Regions from separate parts of the Homo sapiens genome. Here region 2 is linked to region 1. Evidence: fine-mapped expression QTL. A gene starts in region 1. The other region holds a variant in brackets. All regions are shown on one strand. Distances are between the middles of the regions. Region 1 holds the start of SPMIP8 (sperm microtubule inner protein 8). Region 2 has its middle 26 kb from the start of SLC38A7.

Region 1 (4,000 bases):
GCAACCTCCGCCTCCCAGGTTTAAGCAATTCTCATGCCTCAGCCTCCCAAGTAGCTGGGATTACAGGTGCCTGCCACCACGCCTGGTTAAGTTTTGTATTTTTAGTAGAGATGGGGTTTCACCATGTTGACCAGGCTGGTCTCAAACTCCTGACCTCAGGTTATCAGCCTGCCTTGGCCTCCCAAAGTGCTGGGACTGCGCCCAGCCTCTAAGTGTTTTTTGTGCCTTATCTCCTTCTAACCCCACAACAACACTTTGAGGTAGGCCTTGTCAATTATCCTCATTGTACTGAGCAGTAAACAGAGGCTCAGACCTGGCCAAAGTGTCCTGGGCAGGGAGCAGCAGAGCTGGGACTGGCCTCTTTCATCCTTGCATCTGTCTCCCTCTTTCCTGAAACCATCTGCCCCTTCCCCAAAGGGGATCCTACACTGGTGTCCTAACCTTTGCGGCAGTAGGTGGTGGACTGGCAGTGCTCATCAGGAAGGCAGGCCTTGACGGTGTCCCTGTCCATGTGGCGCAGGGTGGGCAGGGCTGGGTGGTAGAGCTGCTGCTTCACGCCCGCCAGCTGGTTGCGCTGCCGCTCCATGGGAAGCAGGATGGCCGGGGAGGCATACACATGTGTGGAGCCATCGTCCCAGGGCACCAGGTCAATGATGCGGGCCATAGCTGGGGGGCAGAGGGTTCTAAGGGGCTCACCCTGGGCTCATGCTGGCCAGACACCCTTCTCTGCATGAAAACAACCTTGGCCAGTGCCGATGTCTACTTGCCAAACATTTATTTAGCACCTACTGTGTGCCAGGCCATTTTTCTGGAGCTCAGCATGAGGTGGCAGGAACATTCAGATAACAGAAGATAACAGAGACAACCCTCCCACTCCCCTTCCAACACACACATACACACACACACACACACACACACACTCACATTGTGCCATGGCTGTGAGGGAGGTCAGTACAGAGTGTGTGTTTCTGGGGAGGCTGGGGTTAGGACATTCAAGGAATGGTCTAAAAGAGGTGGTATTTGAGTCTATTCGTTTTTTTTTCTTTCTTTCTTTTCTTTTTTTTTTTTTTTTTGAGACAGTCTCACTCTTCTGCTCAGACTGAAGTACAGTGGCGCCATCTTGGCTCAATGCAACCTCTGTCTCCTGGGTTCAAGTGATTCTCCTGCCTCAGCCTCCTGAGGAACTGGGATTATAGGCATCCACCACCACATGTGACTAGTTTTTGTATTTTTAGTAGAGACGGGGTTTCACTGTGTTGGCCAGGCTGGTCTCGAACTCCTGACCTCAAGTGATCCACCCGCCTCAGCCTCTCAAAGTGCTGGGATTACAGGTGTGAGCCACCTTGCCTGGCGAGTCTATTCTTAAATAATAAGCAGGAAAGTGCAGCAGCAAGCGGGTTCAGAATGTAGCTTAGTATGCCGTATACCTCTGGGTGAATAATTATGGACTTGCCCTAGCTATTTACCCAAAATTCTACAGATTGACTCAGAAAGATTTTCAGGAAGGGGAGCAACATGATATATTTAAACTAGAAAAGCATTACTGGATACCCAGTGCCTCCCTTTAAAAAGCAGATAGTCCCAGGAGCCTTTCAGTCATTTACACTTTAGTGAGAATTTGTTGAGACAGCTTGCTTTCTTCCTGACCCTGAGTTAGAGGTGAGAGGTGGAGGTGGAAGCTAGGGTGGCAGGAGGAGAGAGGACCTTAGATCATGGAGGAGCAGGGAGGGGGCATGGTGACAAGGCATGGGGAAGCTGCCTTAGGGGATGTGACTGCCTGGGGAGGGACAGGGAGGGGGATCACGGATATGGGGAAGAGAGCAAGGGCTCCCTGCTTCTGACTCACCAATAGCAGCTACCTTATCTGTAGGGCCCAGGCCCAGGTGCACAGGCTTATAAGGACTTTCAGTTCTTTGACTGCTCAATGGGCAGAAGAGGAAGGGAGGTGGACGAGCCCTTATTATGGACAGCAGCAGAATAAAGGAACATTGTGCACAGACAATGCCCATTGCAGCCTGATTCTGAGGCACCCACTCCTTAGCAACCCTGGCAACTACAGGCTCTAACAAGAGCCTGTGCCAGAATTCCTGTGCTCTGGCCACTCCCTTCCAGCCTTCCTGAAGGCTGTGGTCTCCCAGGCCTTAGCACAGGCCAGGCATCTTGGGAAATGTCAGATGGGGAGCTGGGGTTCCCTGGAGGTAGTCAGGCCAAGGCAGGCCAGAAATGGCTACTGAGCCCACTGCAGGCTGTGTAATCCTGGGCTAATTACCGCCTCTCTCTGGGACTCAAGGCTCTCCTCTGTGTTAGGCAAGGACTCTAGGATCTGCCGTTAGGAGGATCTGGATGCTGAGAGGGATCTCCCCTCCCTGGAACCCTCAGGGAAGAGGGCACTGCACTGTCTGCCAGCCCTTGAGTCTCCAGGAGTGGAGATTAGCTGTGGCCAGTATCCAGGGTAAGCGTGAGGGGATCAGGGAGAGTGGTGGACTCAGCAGGCCAGGGATTAGCAGATGATACTCCACCCTCAGCCCCTGCAGGACTGCAGGCTCCCAGAAAAGCCAGGCTGTGAGTGCCCAAGGCCAGCACCCCAAAGCCCTGGGGCCTGCCCACCATCCTGGTCACAACCATTAGAGACAGACCCCCAAGGTGAGGAAACCCCAGGAGATCCTAACTTATTTGCATATATTGGCATGTGCTTTTGCATATACCTGCCCAGGGGCTGAACCTGATGGGTCTTGGAGCCCCTCCTGTGAAATTCTTGTAGGATTTGTTTCCCCAGTTGCTCCTCCTCCAGTGCTCCATACAGCTTCCAGAACAGCATTCCTAACTGCTACCCCTTACAAAAAACCTTCCCAGAGTTGACTCCACTCACCACCCCACCCCCAATTTATTTCTTGACTCTTTTAAAGTTATAAAATAGAAGAAATACAGAAAGTGAATAAATATCTAATGTAACTAATAATTTACAAAATGAGACCCCGTATAACTACCACCCACCCTGGTCAAGACATGGAGTACTACTTTTAAAACAGTTTATCAGTTTCTTAAAAAATGAAACAGAAATGTACCATATGATTGGGTCATCTGGAAGATTCTACCCCAGGAGGCTTCCCAAGAGAAATGAAAGTATATTGTGAGGCACGATGGCTCACACCTGTAATCCCAGCACTTTGGGAGGCTGAGGTGAGCAGATCACTTGAGGTTGGGAGTTTGAGACCAGCCTGGCCAACATGGTGAAAACCTGTCTCTACTGAAAACACAAAAATTAGCTGGGCGTGGTGGTGCAAGCCTGTAATCCCAGCTACTCAGGACGCTGAGGCAGGAGAATCGCTTGAACCTGGGAGGCGGAGGTTGCAGTGAGCCGAGATCGCAGCATCGCACTCCAGTCTGGGCGGCAAGAGCAAGACTTCGTCTCAAAAAAAAAAAAGTATATATCTTCACAAAGACTTGCACACAAATGTTCATAGCAACATGATGTATCGCCAAAAAGTGGAAACAACCTGTGTCCACTGATGAGTGGATAAACTGTGGTGCGTCTATACCATGCAATACTCTTGGGCAATGAAAAGAAATGAAGTTCTGATACAAGCTACGAGGTGGATGAACCTCATAAAACATTACGCTACATCAAAGAAGCCAGATGTGAAAACTCACATATTGTATGACCCATTTATATAAAATGTCCAGGAAAGACAAATCTATAGACGCAGAAAGCAGATGTGTGGTTGCCTGGGACTGGGGTGTACGAATGAAGAGTGGTTATCATCTGGTGTGAGGGGTCTTACTGGGGCAACGGGAATGTTCTAAAACCAGATGTGGCAAGAGTTGCACAGTTCAGTCAATGTGTTAAAAATCATGAGTTAGGCCGGGGCGGTGGCTCACGCCTGTAATTCCAGCCCTTTGGGAACCCCGAGTGGGTGGATTGCTTGAGCCCGGGAGTTCGAGACCAGCCTGGGAAACATGGCGAAACCCTGTCTCTACAAAAAATATGAAAATTAAATGG
Region 2 (4,504 bases), 680 kb before region 1:
AAAAACTTAGCTGGGCGTGATGGCACATGCCTGTAGTCCCAGCTACTTGGGAGGCTGAGGCAGGAAAATCGCTTGAACCCGGGAGGCAGAGGTTGCAGTGAGCCAAGACTGCACCACTGCACTCCAGCCTGGGCGATAAAGTGAGACTCCGTCTCAAAAAAAAAAAAAAAAAAAAAAAAAAAAACAGAAAAAAAAACTGGGCTGGGCGCAGTGGCTCACACCTTTAATCCCAGCACTTTGAGAGGCCGAGATGGGCAGATCACTTGAGGCCTGGCCAACATGGCGAAACACTGTCTCTACTAAAAATACAAAATAAATTAGCCAGGCATGGTGGTGTGTGCCTGTAGTCCCAGCTACTCGGGAGGCTGAGGCAGGAAAATCGCTTGAACCTGGAAGGCGGAGGTTGCAGTGAGTCGAGACGGCACCACTGCACTCCAGCCTGGTCGAGTGTAAGATTCCATCTCCAAAAAAAAAGAAAAAATTAGCCCAGCGTGGTGGTACATACCTGTAGTCCCAGCTACTCTGGAGACTGAGGCACAAGAATCGCTTGAACCTGGGAGGCGGAGGTTGCAGTGAGTCAAGATCTCCCCACTGCATGCCAGCCTGGGCGACAGAGCAAGACTGTGTCTAAAAAAAAAAAAAGATGCATTAGTTAAGAGATGCTACAGATAAATCCTAAAATCCCAGTGGCTTAACACCATAAACGTTCATATCTCACTGACGTCACAGTCCAATGCAGGTGGCCCTGCTCAGGCACATGGAAGGCAAAGGTGAGGCTTGGGGCTAGCAGGTGGGTGGTTGAAAATAATACAAATTGCCGGGCGCGGAGGCTCACGCCTGTAATCCCAGCACTTTGGGATGCCGAGGCAGGCAGATCACGAGGTGAAGAGATCAAGACCATCCTGGCCAACATTGTGAAACCCCTTCTCTACTAAAAATACAAAAATTAGCTGCACATGGTGGCACATGCCTGTAGTCCCAGCTACTTGGGAGGCTGAGGCAGGAGAATTGCTCAAAACTGGGAGGCAGAGGTTGCAGTAAGCCGAGATCGCACCACTGCACTCCAGCCTGGAGACAGAGTGAGACTCCATCTCAAAAAAAAAAAAAAAAGCCGGGTGCGGTGGCTCATGCCTGTAATCCCAGCACTCTGGGAGGCCAAGGCAGGTGGATCACAAGGTCAGGAGATGGAGACCATCCTGGCTAACACGGTGAAACCCCATCTCTACTAAAAACACGAAAATTAGCCGGGCGTAGTGGCAGGCGCCTGTGGTCCCAGCTGCTGGGGAGGCTGAGGCAGGAGAATGGCGTAAACCCGGGAGATGGAGCTTGCAGTGAGCCGAGATCGCGCCACTGCACTCCAGCCTGGGTGACAGAGCGAGACTCCGTCTCAAAAAAAAGAAAAGAAAAGAAAATTATTTAAACAACAACAACAACAACAACAAAAAATGACATCCTCATCCTAATGTCCCACATACTTGTAAGCACTTGGTGTGGGAGTCAGATATGGAGAAAAGCCCGCTGAGCAGAATGCATAAAACTTGGGCTTTGGAGACCGAAAGATCAAAGTCTGACTCCCAACTAATTCCTCCATTGGCTCCTTAGCTATGTAACCTCAAGTAAGTTATTTAACTTCCCTGGATCTTAATTTCATCAGCTGCAAAAACAGGAGTAATCTGATGCTTAGCTTTCTCATCTCTCCAGTTCTCTATTGTTGCATAATAAACCACCCCAAAACTTAGAGGCTTTAAACACAAGTTTACTTTCGTAACAATCCTGTGGGTTGACCAGGATCAGCTGGGTGGTTCTTCTCTTCTGTGTAGTGTTAGTTAGAGCTAGAGCTGCAGCCATGTGGAGGCTTACTTGGGGCACAGTGTCCAAGATGGCGCACTCACTTGCTGACTGCTGGCTGGGAACTCGCCTGAGCTGTTATCTGGAGCATCTGCACATGATCTCTCCATGTGGTTTCAACTTCTCATAGTGTGGTGGCTGCATTCTTGGGAGAGTCCCAACAGTGGTGTGATCTGGGCTCACTGCAACCTCTGCTTCCCTGATCCTCCCACCCCAGCCTCCCGAGTAGCTGGGACTACAAGGGGCATGCCACCACACCCAGCTAATTTTTTGTATTTTTTTTGTAGGGGTCTTTTGTGTTTTCTTGATGGGGTCTCGCCATGTTGCCCAGGCTGATCTTGGATTCCTGAGTGCAAAGCAATCTGCCCACCTCAGTCTCCCAAAGTGCTGGGGTTACAGGTGTGAGCCACCATGCCCAGCCCAATAGTGAGCATTTCAAGAGGCCCAGAGAGAAGCATCTTCAGTTACAGGAGTCTCAGAATGCCACTTGC[G/A]TAGCATTCTCTCAGGCAAGTGAGTCACAGAGCCCAGCAAGATTCAAGTGGAGGGGAGCTAGACCCCATCTCTTCAAGAGAGAAGTGACAAAGAACTTGTGGCCATTTTGTCTAGCACATAATCTGGAAAATACACACAAATACTTGGATCAAAGGGTTTTTGCAAGAATTATATGGAATTCATAGAAAGTACCTTGCCCATAATGAGGGATGATTGAAGAAATAAATGAAAAAATAAATAAATAAACCATTGACTGTTGTTATTCTTTTAAAAGGTTACATTTGGCATCAAAGAGTACCTTAAGTAAATCAGGATGGAATTCTTCACATAAGAGGATTCACCTCACATCACTCTAAATAGCAAGCTTCCCTAGTTCCTGGAAAAGAGGACCTGGGTCATGTGTCATTTCACTGACATCCCACTAACTACAGTTGCACCCTGCACACTCAGTGAGGTCTCTTCTGAAGGCCCAACGTGGAGAAAGAGGGTCTTGCTGGGGATGTGACTAGTTCCATCTCCTGGAGGGTCAGTGGTTGGACCAGGAACCTGATTCCCAGCCACCAGCTAAAACTGAATGACATCCCTTGGGCTTTGGTTGTTGGTCAAAAATGAGAATGGGGTGGGGCGCAGTGGCTCATGCCTGTAATCCTAACACTTTGGGAGGCCTAGGTGGGTGGATCACTTGAGGCCAGGAGTTTGAGACCAGCCTGGGCAACGTGGTGAAACCCCATTTCTACTAAAAATACAAAAATCAGCTGGGCATGGTGGCACGCGTCTGTAATCCCAGCTACTTGGGAGGCCAAGGCACGAGAGTCGTTTGAATCTGGGAGGCGGCGGTTGCAGTGACCTGAGATTGCACCATTGCACTCCAGCCTGGGTGACAGAGCAAGACTCCATCTCAAAAAAAAAAAAAAAAAAGTTTTCAAGTCATAGCCTCATCCTCGATAAACTGCATTTTATTATGGGAGACAGGGAAGGGGATTCATTTGTTTAAAATAAAACGATTAAGATGATACAAGAGGGCCTGGCACAGCAGCTCACACCTGTAATCCCAGCATTTTGGGAGGCCAAGGTAGGTGAGTCACTTGAGCCCAAGAGTTCAAGACTAACCTGGGCAACATGGTGAAACCTCATCTCTACTAAAACTACAATTAGCTGGGTATGGTGGCACACGCCTGTAGTCCCAGCTACTTGGGAGTCTGAGGTAGAAAGATCACCTGAGCTTGGAAAGTCAAGGCTGCAGCGGGCCAAGATTGCACCACTGCACTCCAGCCTGGGTGACCAGAGTGAGGCCCTGTCTAAAAAAAAAAAAAAAAAGAAGAAAAAAGGGTGATATAAGGGCAAAGAAGGAGCATAGAATTACACTCTGTCAATAAAAAGATAAGGAACGCCAGAGGACTCTGAACTCCTTCCTAGCTCCCTCATGAATGACCTCTGAGCCAGGAGCAAGTCCTACAGTCTCCTCCTCTGAAAGCCGGGAGCTTCTCCAACCTTTCAGCATTCCCATTTTGAGATTTCATGGGCTGTGCTTTGGGTTGGTGATCCTATGGCCAGCTCTTGACTTTTCTCTTCCCGGGTCACCCTGGATTCCATTCAGCCAGTTCATGCACATATGTATCCATGCATCCATTCATGTATCCATCTGTCCTTCATCCATTCATCCATGTGTCTTTCTTTATTTCCTGCCCCCCACCCCGCCCCAAGACGGAGTCTTCCTCTGTGCCCCAGGCTGGAGTGCAGTGGCACAATCTCGGTTCACTCTTGGCTGACTGAAACCTCTCCCTCCCTGGTTCAAGCTATTCTCCTGTCTCAACCTCCCGAGTAGCTGGGATTAACAGGTGTGCCACCATGTCCGGCTAATTTTTGTATTTTTAGTAGAGATGGGGTTTCACCATGTTGACCAGGCTGGTCTTGAACTCCTGAACTCGTGATCTGCCCAACTCGGCCTCCCAAAATGCTAGGATTACAGGCGTGAGCCACTGTGCCAGGCCTTTTTTTTTTTTGAGACGGAGTCTTGCTCTGTTGCCCAGGCTGGAGTACAGTGGCATCATCTTGGCTCACTGCAACCATTGCCTCCCCAGTTCAAGGGATTCTCCTGCCTCAGCCTCCCAAGCAGCTGGGATTACAGGCATGCACCACTACACCTGATTATTTTTTGTATTTT

What was found. PIP is the estimated chance that this variant, and not a neighbour inherited with it, causes the effect.
Region 2: its variant is the best candidate, but not a certain one, in a credible set for the expression of SPMIP8 in ileum (GTEx, PIP 0.54).

What each region holds. Positions count from the first base shown.
Region 1 is chr16:57,974,481-57,978,480 of GRCh38, reverse strand. It overlaps SPMIP8 (sperm microtubule inner protein 8), which reads right to left and starts at 1,937. Exons shown (of 8, transcript NM_199456.3): 1 at 1,847-1,937; 2 at 442-666. The coding sequence starts at 664.
Region 2 is chr16:58,656,323-58,660,826 of GRCh38, reverse strand. No RefSeq gene overlaps it. Among named protein-coding and RNA genes, the nearest start is that of SLC38A7, 26 kb to the left of the region's middle. The variant G/A (reference allele first, on the strand shown) is at 2,340.